Linked DNA regions of Homo sapiens. Changing the gene in region 1 together with any one later gene gives a genetic interaction. Each region holds a gene or a part of one and is shown in the gene's direction. Other genes may lie near its edges.

Region 1 (3,654 bases):
TTCCTTAAAAGTCTGGAGTTCCCACGTAATCAAAACTGTAACTAAAAGTATGGGGCCATTAGAATCTTGTCCTGCCACCACTTTATGAGTATTTATTATTAAGAGTATATGCCATCCTCACTGGTTATTTTGTACCGCTCAGGGAACACATGCCCACAATCTTGTCCTGCCACCACTTTATGAGTATTTATTATTAAGAGTATATGCCATCCTCACTGGTTATTTTGTACCGCTCAGGGAACACATGCCCACAATCTTGTCCTGCCACCACTTTATGAGTATTTATTATTAAGAGTATATGCCATCCTCACTGGTTATTTTGTACCGCTCAGGGAACACATGCCCACAATCTTGTCCTGCCACCACTTTATGAGTATTTATTATTAAGAGTATATGCCATCCTCACTGGTTATTTTGTACCGCTCAGGGAACACATGCCCACAATCTTGTCCTGCCACCACTTTATGAGTATTTATTATTAAGAGTATATGCCATCCTCACTGGTTATTTTTGTACTGCTCAGGGAACACATGCCCACAATCTTGTCCTGCCACCACTTCATGAGTATTTATTATTAAGAATATATGCCATCCTCACTGGTTATTTTTGTACCGCTCAGGGAACACATGCCCACTTTGGAGGAATTCTTTGAAGAAGCCATTGAACAGGCAGACCCTGAAAATATGGTGGAAAATGAATATAAGTAAGTATGCTCCTCATTAGCTCCTTTTAATTTTCTTCAATTTGTTTCTTCCTTAGGAATTGTGTGTATACTAGAAAGCCTCTTAAGAGAGGCAGTAGATAGAATAGTGCTTTTTCTCTTAGGTGAGTTTATGTTCCAAGTTCTTGTTAGTACACATCCTGATTTCAAGGATTATTCCTGTTAACTAAGCATGACTTGGAATCACCCTTGTTTCAAAATATAAGAAAAAAAAAACTCCCCCTGATCCCCATTTCTCTCCAACTATTAGTTCTGTTCTCTCTACCCTTCAAAGCACAGTATCTCACAGCAGCTGTTAACCTATCCTGTTCCCCTTAATGTTTTCTTCTCTTGGCGTCCATGAGAATCCAAATCCATGGTTCTTCTGTTTGCCCTTTGCCCTCGTTGCCCACTCCACCTCACATTCCATTTCAGCCTCCTCATCCTCTGCCTAACTCAAATTTTGGAGTAACATCAGGAATTGGTCTTAGCCTCTTTATCTAGAACCTTCTGGGTGACACCGCAGTCTCATGGCTTTAAATAGGAATTGAAGAGTAGTGGTTTAAAGGCAAGAGGCCTCTGGTCAGAATGCATAGGTTCGATTCCCTCTACCACTTACTTACTAGGCAACTAAGGCTAATTTAATTATTAAACCGCCAGTTCCCTTTCCTCATCTGTTAAATAGTAACAGTACCCATTTCACAGGGTTATTCTGAGGATTAAATAAGACAGTGCACTTTGAACCCTACAGGGCATGTGGTTAGCACTCAGTATTTGTGACTAGTGTGACCCTGTGACCAGAGTTGTTAATTACTGTGACCTCTTAACTAATCTCTCTAGTTGTGGTCAGTGCTCCATGCATCAGCCAGTGATCTTTAAAATAATTGTCCAAGTCTAATCTGCTTAAAATCTCCCAGTGAGTGCCTATTCCAAACTCCTTCCCAGGGCCTAAAAGACCTCCTTGGTCTGGCTCATACTCTCCTGTGTGGCCATGCCTCCCCTCTGCTTTAACCACAGCAGGCCTCTTGGTCCTGTCTTTCCCTTTCCTGTCAGGACCTTCACACTTTACTGTCTCACTTGCTTGAACCACTTTTTCCCCAAGGTTGCCGTGGCTTAAAGTCCCCCTGGCTGGGAAGCTCTTCCCCTCCCTGGTCTCCTCTTTTGCATTCTCGTGGTTTTTATTTCACGGCACTTACCACTATCCAAATGAGAAGGTGGCACTTACCACTTTCTCATTTCTCAAGTTTTCCTCATCCTTATGAAATTGTCTTATACCTTGTGTGTTTATCACTAGCAATGCCTGCCTTACTGTGCCTCAGGTACTCTCCACAGCTACTGAGTGCCTGGCTCAAAAGTGTTTGTCGATTGAAAGAATATTAATTTATCACTGTTACATAAGACTAGGTGGACTCATTCCTAAAGTGATAGTTCAAATTATTATCTCCAAAGAGGGTTTTGTGGAGAATAAGAAAAATGATGTGTATAATTGACAGTGAATTTTGAAAATGCCTAAAATAATCAAATTGTCTAAACAGATATGTCAGAGAGGAAGGCTCTTAACTGTTTAGGCAAAGCCTCACAGCAGGTGTTAACTTGGGAAGAGTCCCCAGTGTCTATGGGTAGTTTTTGTTAAGTCTTCAGTGGTACCTGCACATCCTAAAGGTAACATATGCTTATTTATAAGAGGTGACCAAATAAACCAAATTGCTATTCTTAGGGGAGGAAGAGACTTCCAATCCAAAACTCTTAAATGGAATAAATTTGTGGTTTGGTTTCTTCCGCAGCATTGCATATTTCTGACGCATTATCTTTAGAATTTCTCTGCAGTTTGTTTCTCACCTGATGGTATACCACCCTGATCATTGTTATACTTCATTAGGGAACAGTTCATGGATTCCAAATAGCTAGATGGATGATTCCTGTTGTATACGTACTGCATCCAGCCAGTACTGCACACACTTGTTGACTTGTTAAAATTAAACAAAATGAACGGAAACTTTGAAAATGTGTTTGCTGCATATGAGCCTGCCTCTTCAGGCATTGTTGGTTCCTGTGATTAGTTACATGTGCATCTATTGGTTTGTTATTATCAGTGGACTACATACTGAAAAGTTCTTTAGGAATAAGATTCAAATACAAAGAATGGCACTTTGAGCTATTTACCTTAAATACAGAATTACACATGGCAGAACTGAGCAGAAGGGAATACAGAAATACAAAGCTATAAATTACAAGCCTGACACCTCTTTTTATAGGGCTGTGAACAATTCAAATTATGGTTGGAGAGCCCTGAGACTATTAGCACGGAGAAGCCCTCACTTCTTCCAGCCAACCAACCAGCAGTTTAAAAGTTTACCAGAATATCTTGAAAATATGGTAATAAAGCTAGCCAAGGAATTACCGGTAAGTACCATAGATCAACTTTTCATACCCTTTAGTTGACATCTTCTTTAAAATTGCTGTCACTATGTGAGCAAAAAACTGACTTAATCATGTGAAAAACCAGTGATCCACAAGCTCCCATGTTTTAGAATGAGGGAAAAACACATTGGAATATACATTTACAGGAAATACATGAGTTGATAAAGAAGTAACTGATAATTTTCTGTACAGCATGTAATTTAAAGTTCAACAGGGCTGTGGGTGCGGTGGCTCACGACTGTAATCCCAGCACTTTGGGAGGCCGAGGCGGGTGGATCATGAGGTCAAGAGATTGAGACCATCCTGGCCAATATGGTGAAACCCCGTCTCTACTAAAATATAAAAAATTAGCCAGGTGTGGTGGCACGTGCCTGTAGTCCCAGCTACTCAAGAGGCTGAGGCAAGGGAATTGCTTGAACCTGGGAGGCGGAGGTTGCAGTGAGCCGAGATCTCGCCACTGCACTCCAGCCTGGCAACCAAGCAAGACTCCGTCTCAAAAAATTAAAGTTCGTGATACTTCAGGTAAACTGTTA
Region 2 (3,654 bases), on another chromosome or scaffold:
GGAGGCTGAGGCAGGAGAATTCTTTGAACCCGGGAGGTGGAGGTTGGGGTGAGCCGAGATCGCGCCATTGCACTCCAGCCTGGGCAACAAGAGCAAAACTCCATCTCAAAAAATAAAAAATAAAAAAAGAATGAAACACTAATCTTTACCATAACTATAAGGCCCTACGTAATCTCACCCCTAGCCACCTGGCTGCTACATCCTCACTTTGCTTTCCTCTCCCCATTGTGCCAGGCCCTGGCTACACCTCCTCAGCTCCATCTTTGGGGCACTGAACTGTCTGTGTCTTCTACTGTGCTCTTTCCTTCCAGACATCTTGGCTGACTTCTCTCATTTAATCCGTGTCTTATGTCAAAGCTGTGCCCTTAGGAAGACCTTCTCTGACCACCCTATTGAAGTAGCCAACCCACTCCCCCAGTAGTCTCTAATAAAACATTGCTTTATTTCCTTCCCAACCCTTATCACTCTAGGTTTATTTCTTCTCTTAGTTCTTCTTGTCTCTTGTATTAGAATTTAAGTGCCATTGTTCACTTTGATACCCCAAGTATCTAGAAAGTGCCTGGCACATGATAGGCACTCAATAAATATTTGATGAATTAGTGAATAAATGAAGACTTTGCATTCTTATATCTACTTTTTTCATTCATTGATTAATTCATAAATAATGGTATGGGGAAGTAGTAGTGGGAAGGGTTGGGTCTAATTGACATGATCCAGAAAAATGATATGATGCTAGCTGGAAGGAAGGTGGAAATTTGAAGGTAAAAATAGCCTGGTAGCCAGTGAGAAAGTACAAATGCTCAGGCTGATCAGAGCAGTGTCAGGTAGCTAGTTGTGAAGCTGCCCCTTCTGCATAATTTCTCAAAAGTCCCATCTATCAACAAGTTTGAAACTAATATATAAACATTACCTGCTATACATTTTTCCCAATCTTATTTTGCTCATCAGATACTAATTTTCATACAGGGAAATTGTCATATTTATTAAATGAGCATTCTAAAAGGATATCATTTTATTATGTGTAAGGATCCCTCTTAGTTGATGTTTAATTTAAAAAATTCAAATAAAGTGGAGAATCATTAAAAAATGGTCCATGCATCCCTTAATTGTTTTATTTTACCTTAAAATATATAAACATATGTTCATTCACTAATCATGTTATGTAAGACAGGAGTCAGAAAACTTTTTCTGCAAAGGCCAGATAATAAATACTTTTGGGTTTATGGGCCATATAGTCTCTGCTGTAACAACTCAACTCTGCCTCTGTATTTAGGGAAAACTGCCATAGACAATTTGTATATTAATGGGCAGACTGTCTTAGGAAAATGTTATTTACAAAAACTGCAGAAGTGCTGGATTTGGCCTGTAGACCCCTGATGTATGAGTTTTTCTTGCATAAATCGCTCATAATGCATTGTCTGCAATTTGTAGTTTGATTTCTAGATCAAATCAAAATGAGAACTTATCCTCTTATCAAGCAGTCTTAGGGCAGACCCTTAGTTTTTATGACTTTTCCCTGGTCCTTTCTTTATAGCTGTCCTTTGCAAGCCTCTGTAGAGTCTTTCCAAGCATTAGGCTTAGGTTTTTATAGAAAGAACTCTCTCTATTCACAATAGTCTTTCATTGGCATTTAGGTGATAGCTATTTATATAATGATAGTATTAAGTAGAACTTTTATAAATAAGTTTGGTAACCGGCACAAGCGAGTCTTGGTGAGCTGTAGTTCACAGTCAATAGCGGACTGTAGGGAGTAGCCCTGAGTGTTCAGTATGCTGTGAAAGGGTTTTTGTTGTTGTTGGTTTTTTTTTTTTAGGGAACTTATAGAAATGCTGGCAATTTCAAGAAACCAAAAGTTGTTACAGGCTGGAGAGGAAAACCAGGTAAGTGGCTTCTTTTTAAATTAGTTAATTTCTCTTTGTTTTTTAATTAAAAGAAAAAAACTTGATTTCTGCAAGTTTCCTCTTTATATTTACTTTGTGTGGGAACAGGAATGTTGGATCCTTTTAAGTTATTAATTAAAACTTTAATATTGGTATTTTCTTTGTATCATTTACTTAAGATAACAGTGCGCTTAAGAAGAATAGTTGCCTGAGGGTTTAGCAGTATTTTGTTATTTTCTCTTACAATTCTAGTCACACTTACATGTTTATTTATTTTTGTCCTTTGAATTAACCAAGAAAGGCTTGTTGTATGGAGATTACAACAATATTTAGAATCAAAAGTTAATGCTCAAAAACTTACCGTGTATTGTAAGTATAGTTCCCTAATGCAACTTGAACATGCAGGGAAATAAAAGAGCATACAACTCTTATTAGACATTGCCTTATAGGGGTGAAAGTACGGGCAGTTTTTATTTGCTCACTTTTCGGTGCTTTCTAATTTTCCATGGTGGGTGAACAGACTTTTTTTCCTGATTCAGAATTTTTTTAGAGGTAAGAGGATAAATTTTATATTATGTTTTTGGCACAGTTTTTTCTTTTTTGAGACAAGTTCTCGCTCTGTAGCCCAGGCTAGAGTGCAGTGGCATGATGACTGCTCACTGCAGCCTCAACCTGCTGGACTGAAGCGATCTCCCACTTATCCTCACCAGTATCTGGGACTATAGGCATGCGCTATAATGCCTTGCTAATTTAAAAGAAATTTTTTTTTTTGGTAGAGACATAGTCTCACTGTGTAGCCCAGGTCAGTCTTGAACTGTCTTGAACTCCTGTCCTCAAGGGATCCTCCCCACCTTGGCCTACCAAAGTGCTGGGACTATAGGCATGAGCCACCATAGCTGGCCAAAAAAAATGTTTAAGAGAAAATGAATGGAGAGGATTAACCTTTCTAAAGATGATGTAAAGGAGAAGAGGAGACAGTAATAAATCTTTTGTCTGCATCATTACCTTAGTTCTGTCTTACGTTTTGAGGGCAGGGAAATCTGACGGACTCAATAGAAAAGTGTCAGTGAGCCTCAAAAGGGGAGGAGGGGATCCAGATGAGGCCACAAGCTAGGAGAAACAGCTAACCTTAGGGGTAGTAAGGTTTTTGTTTTGTTTTTTTTCAAAAAAGAAAGAGGCTAGAGATAAATATGTTAATAGAAGACTACTAGTCTCTCAGGTACTCTGTTAATACCCGTGGGATTAAATAGGAATTTATACAAAGTATGCAAGAAGTAAAATGCAAGGCTTGACTTTATTTGATAGACACTTATTAAATGCTTGCTATGAGCCAGGCACACAGATTATTCAGAAGGTGATAATTAAGACCTATAATCAGCACTGATCTTTCTTGCACTTTTTAAAGAGTAGCAATTTGTGAATTGTGTCTTAGTACTGTGGATTCCTATGTAATTTTCATTGAAACTGTTACTATTAGAGAGGGATGTGCCCATTTGAAAATTTTCTAGCCACCATTTTATTTGGATATTTATAATTTTATATAGAATTTTAGAATTAGAAAGGATCTTAACGATGTTCAGTTCAACCTCCTGTGAGAATAAGCTCCAGGGTGGACGGATGAGGTAGAGGTTAATGGTGAGTGGAACCAGAACCTAGGTCTTCTGACTTTAGTTGAATAATTTTTTTCTACTGAACAATAAGATCTAAAGAGAATATTTTTTACTCATGGGTAGTATACAAATTAATTCAACCTGTGTAAACTTCTTGAAAGTTG
Region 3 (3,654 bases), on another chromosome or scaffold:
CGTGTAGCTGGGACTACAGGTGCCTGTCACCACACCTGGCTAATTTTTTGTATTTTTAGTGGAGACAGGGTTTCTCCATGTTGGCCAGGCTGGTTTCGAACTCCTGACCTCAAGTGATATGCCCACCTCGGCCTCCCAAAGTGCTGGGATTACAGGCATGAGCCACCGTGCTTGGCCGGAATTGCAATTTTAAATCCAATTCTAAATATCTATTTGTAAAAGGAAATTAACATAAAATGTGTAATACCTAATACATTTTAACAACAAATTTAACTTCCTCCCCTTCAGCTTCTTATTTGCATTCTTGTTATCAGATGGGAACTAGATCAAAATTCCCTTTCCCTGCACATCCTAACAGGGGTATTGATGCCTTCAGTTTGTCTGTTCAGCACTATGCCAGACTCTCAGAATAATCAAAGAGGAAGATCTCTGCCCTCTAGACATTTTCACGAAAGACCTTTAGCACAAGTTCACTGTCAGTGCTGCTTGGGGGTCTTTAGGAATCCTAATGCATTCTGGATCTTTCCTGCCCCAAATACCTTGTGCTGCTCCATCTGGTTCTGAGTCTTCACTGGGGGTATAACATTAGACTTGCTGTCTAGCGTATGGTACTTGTGGAAGGAACAAACCATGACAGATCACTGAGTATCTAGTGTGGATTGGAATGCAGTTCGTAAGGAGGCCTTTTGTCCCTGGGTTTTTCAGATGGGAATCTGAGCCATTATGTCAAAAATTTTACCTCCAATTTATTCCTTACTGAAGGTGAGATATATGGGCCTTCTAGGCTGGTTTTTCCTGGTGGTAGGGGCAGACCTCTGTGTCAGAAGCCACCTGGGTTGCTTATTTAAAATGTAGGTTGGGACTTAGAGGGTGCAGCAGTTCCCATCCTAGACCTACTGAATCAGACTCTCAGGGGATAGAGGTCTGGACTCTGCATTTGTAACAGGTATAGCTCAAGTAATTATGATTTATGTTAGTGATTAAGATCACTGCCTATATGCAGGTTAATCTTTTTAGTAACACACTATAAGTATTTAGAAGAGAAATAGCTTCCTGTGTCTGCCATAGTACTTCCAAATTAAGCGTACATGTATAGGCTGGGCATGGTGGCTCATGCCCTGTAATCTCAGCACTTTGGGAGGCCAAAGTGGGAGGAACACTTGAGCCCAGGTGTTTGAGATCAGCGTAGGCAACAAAGTGAGACCTCATCTGTACAAAGACTTTAAAAATTGGCCAGGTGCAGTGGCTCATACCTGTAATCCCAGCACTTTGGGAGGCCGAGGTGGGCGGATCACCTGAGGTTGGGAGTTTGAGACCAGCCTGACCAACATGGAGAAACCTCGTCTCTACTAAAAATACAAAATTAGCCAGGCATGGTGGTGCTTGCCTGTAATCCCAGTTACTCAGAAGGCTGAGGCAGGAGAATCACTTGAACCCAGGAGGTGGAGGCTGTGGTGAGCCGAGATCGTGCCATTGCACTCCAGCCTGGGAAACAAGAGTGAAACTCTGTATTAAAAAAAAAAAAAAAAGAATTTAAAAATTAGCTGGGCATGGTGGCGTGCCTCTAGTCTCAGCTACTTGGGAGTCTGGGGTGGGAGGATTGCTTGAGCCTGGGAGGTTGAAGTTGCAGTTACTTGTGGTCCCACCGTTTCTCTTCAGCCCAGGTAACAGAGTGAGACCCTGTCCCAAAGAAAAAAAAAAAAAAGGCACTTGTATAACTAAAAGAACTTGACAGGGAGGTTTTAAGATGGCAAAACTACTGGTTCTTTTTTTTTTTTTTTTTAGGCAGGGTTTCACTCCTGTCACCCAGGCTGGAGTGCAGTGGCACAATTACAGCTCACGGCTGTAGCGTTGACCTCCCTAGCTCAGTGATCCTTCCCCCTCAGCCTCTCAAGTAGCTGGGACTACAGGTGTGCACCACCACACCCAGCTAATTTTTAAAATCATTTGTAGAGATGGGGGTCCCACTACATTGCCTAGGCTAGTCTGAAACTCCTGGGCTTGGGTGATTCTCAGGCTTTGGCCTCCCAAAGTGCTGGAATTACAGGTGTGAGCTGCCACACCAGGCCTTATTTATTTATTTGTTTGTTTGTTTATTTATTTATTTTTGAGATGGAGTCTCACTCTATCGCCCAGACTGGAGTACAATAGCACGATCTCGACTCACTGCACCTTCCACCTCCTGGGTTCAAGCAATTCTCCTGCCTCAGCCTCCTGGGTAGCTGAGATTACAGGCGCCTGCCACCACACCTGGCTAATTTTTTGTATTTTCAGTAGAGACGCTATGTTGGCCAGACTGGTCTCTAACTCCTGGCCTCAGGTGATCCAGCACCTGGCCTTATTTTAACCTTTGAAAGTTTTTAAAACTAAGACCTAGTTTGAGAGTTTGAAAGCTTTTCTTTTAGCATTTGACCTGATAGTGACTCTGTCCTTATTTTGACCACACCCTTTCTTCAACATTTTTAAATTTCAAGATACTTGCTGTTGGTGCCTATTGGGAAATAATAATTTGAGGCAAACCTCTGGGCTCTATGTCATCTCCCTTTATGGAATAATATTTATGCAGTAAGTCCTATAAAATGAAAAGCATTCAAGATAATAAAGGAACCAGAGTTCTCAATTCAAATCAGTACAACTCCGTATTTATAAAAATTTTACTCTACCTTTCTAAAAAACTAAAAATTGAGCTATGTGCACACTGGGATGCTTTATTTTATAGGTTTCTTATTTAAAATGGAGATTATATTGTCATGTCCTGTTTTTCTCTGTTTATCTAACTTGAAGTAGCAATAATTAAATTTGTCTTTGAGAGAATAGGCCCCCCTAAGTATTTTCTTTTTTCTTTTTTTTGAGACGGAGTCTCGCTCTGTCACCCAGGCTGGAGTGCAGTGGCGCGATCTTGGCTCCTGCAGCCTCCGCCTCCCGGGTTCAAACAATTCTCTGCCTCAGCCTTCCGAGTAGCTTGGATTACAGGCGCACGCCACCACGTCCAGCTAATTTTTGTATTTTTAGTAGAGACGGGGTTTCACCATCTTGGCCAGGCTGGTCTTGAACTCCTGACCTCGTGATCCACCCTCCTCGGCCTCCCAAAGTGTTGGGATTACAGGCGTGAACCACCGTGCCCGGCCAGCCCTGTAAGTATTTTCTAGGAGCTGTTTTTAGATACTACATGTAAAGAATATTATTATTATAAAGTATACTTCTATAAACCTTCCCCATAAATCTTGAGAAATTTAAAAGTTGTGCTTCTTGTTAATGTAGTGTTTTCCGCATTAATCAGAGGCAAATTTTGAAGTGTAGGAAGAGTTTGTGAGAAGTGTCAGTGTTAATTTGTGAAAACTTTAATTTGTGTCATGTTGCATCTAGCTTGATGTAATTCGCTTGTTAATTTCACTCTTTTCAAAGAGTGAGTCCCATGGGAGCTCCCTCCCCACCCAGCCCCCACCCAAGATGGAGTCTTGCTCTGTCACCCAGGCTGGAGAGCAATGGCACGCTGGGCTCACTGTAGCCTCCGCCTCTAGGTTCAAGTGATTCTCCTGCCTTAGCCTCCCGAGTAGCTGGGATGACAGGCACGCGCCACCACTCCCGGCTAATTTTACATTTTTATTAGAGATGGGGTTTCTCCATGTTGGTCAGTCTGGTCTCAAACTCCCG

Evidence for each region.
Region 2: changes in THOC1 (region 1) and MED4 together harm fitness more than expected from each alone (negative genetic interaction), as found in Homo sapiens cells (one large-scale study listed by BioGRID).
Region 3: changes in THOC1 (region 1) and RTF1 together harm fitness less than expected from each alone (positive genetic interaction), as found in Homo sapiens cells (one large-scale study listed by BioGRID).

Annotation. Positions count from the first base shown.
Region 1 is NC_000018.10:215,935-219,588, reverse strand, and holds part of THOC1 (THO complex subunit 1), read left to right. Parts: intron 1-619; coding exon 620-703; intron 704-2,955; coding exon 2,956-3,103; intron 3,104-3,654. UniProt on the Homo sapiens protein: Component of the THO subcomplex of the TREX complex which is thought to couple mRNA transcription, processing and nuclear export, and which specifically associates with spliced mRNA and not with unspliced pre-mRNA.
Region 2 is NC_000013.11:48,088,578-48,092,231, reverse strand, and holds part of MED4 (mediator of RNA polymerase II transcription subunit 4), read left to right. Parts: intron 1-1,813; coding exon 1,814-1,880; intron 1,881-3,654. UniProt on the Homo sapiens protein: Component of the Mediator complex, a coactivator involved in the regulated transcription of nearly all RNA polymerase II-dependent genes.
Region 3 is NC_000015.10:41,419,944-41,423,597, forward strand, and holds part of RTF1 (RNA polymerase-associated protein RTF1 homolog), read left to right. Parts: intron 1-3,654. UniProt on the Homo sapiens protein: Component of the PAF1 complex (PAF1C) which has multiple functions during transcription by RNA polymerase II and is implicated in regulation of development and maintenance of embryonic stem cell pluripotency.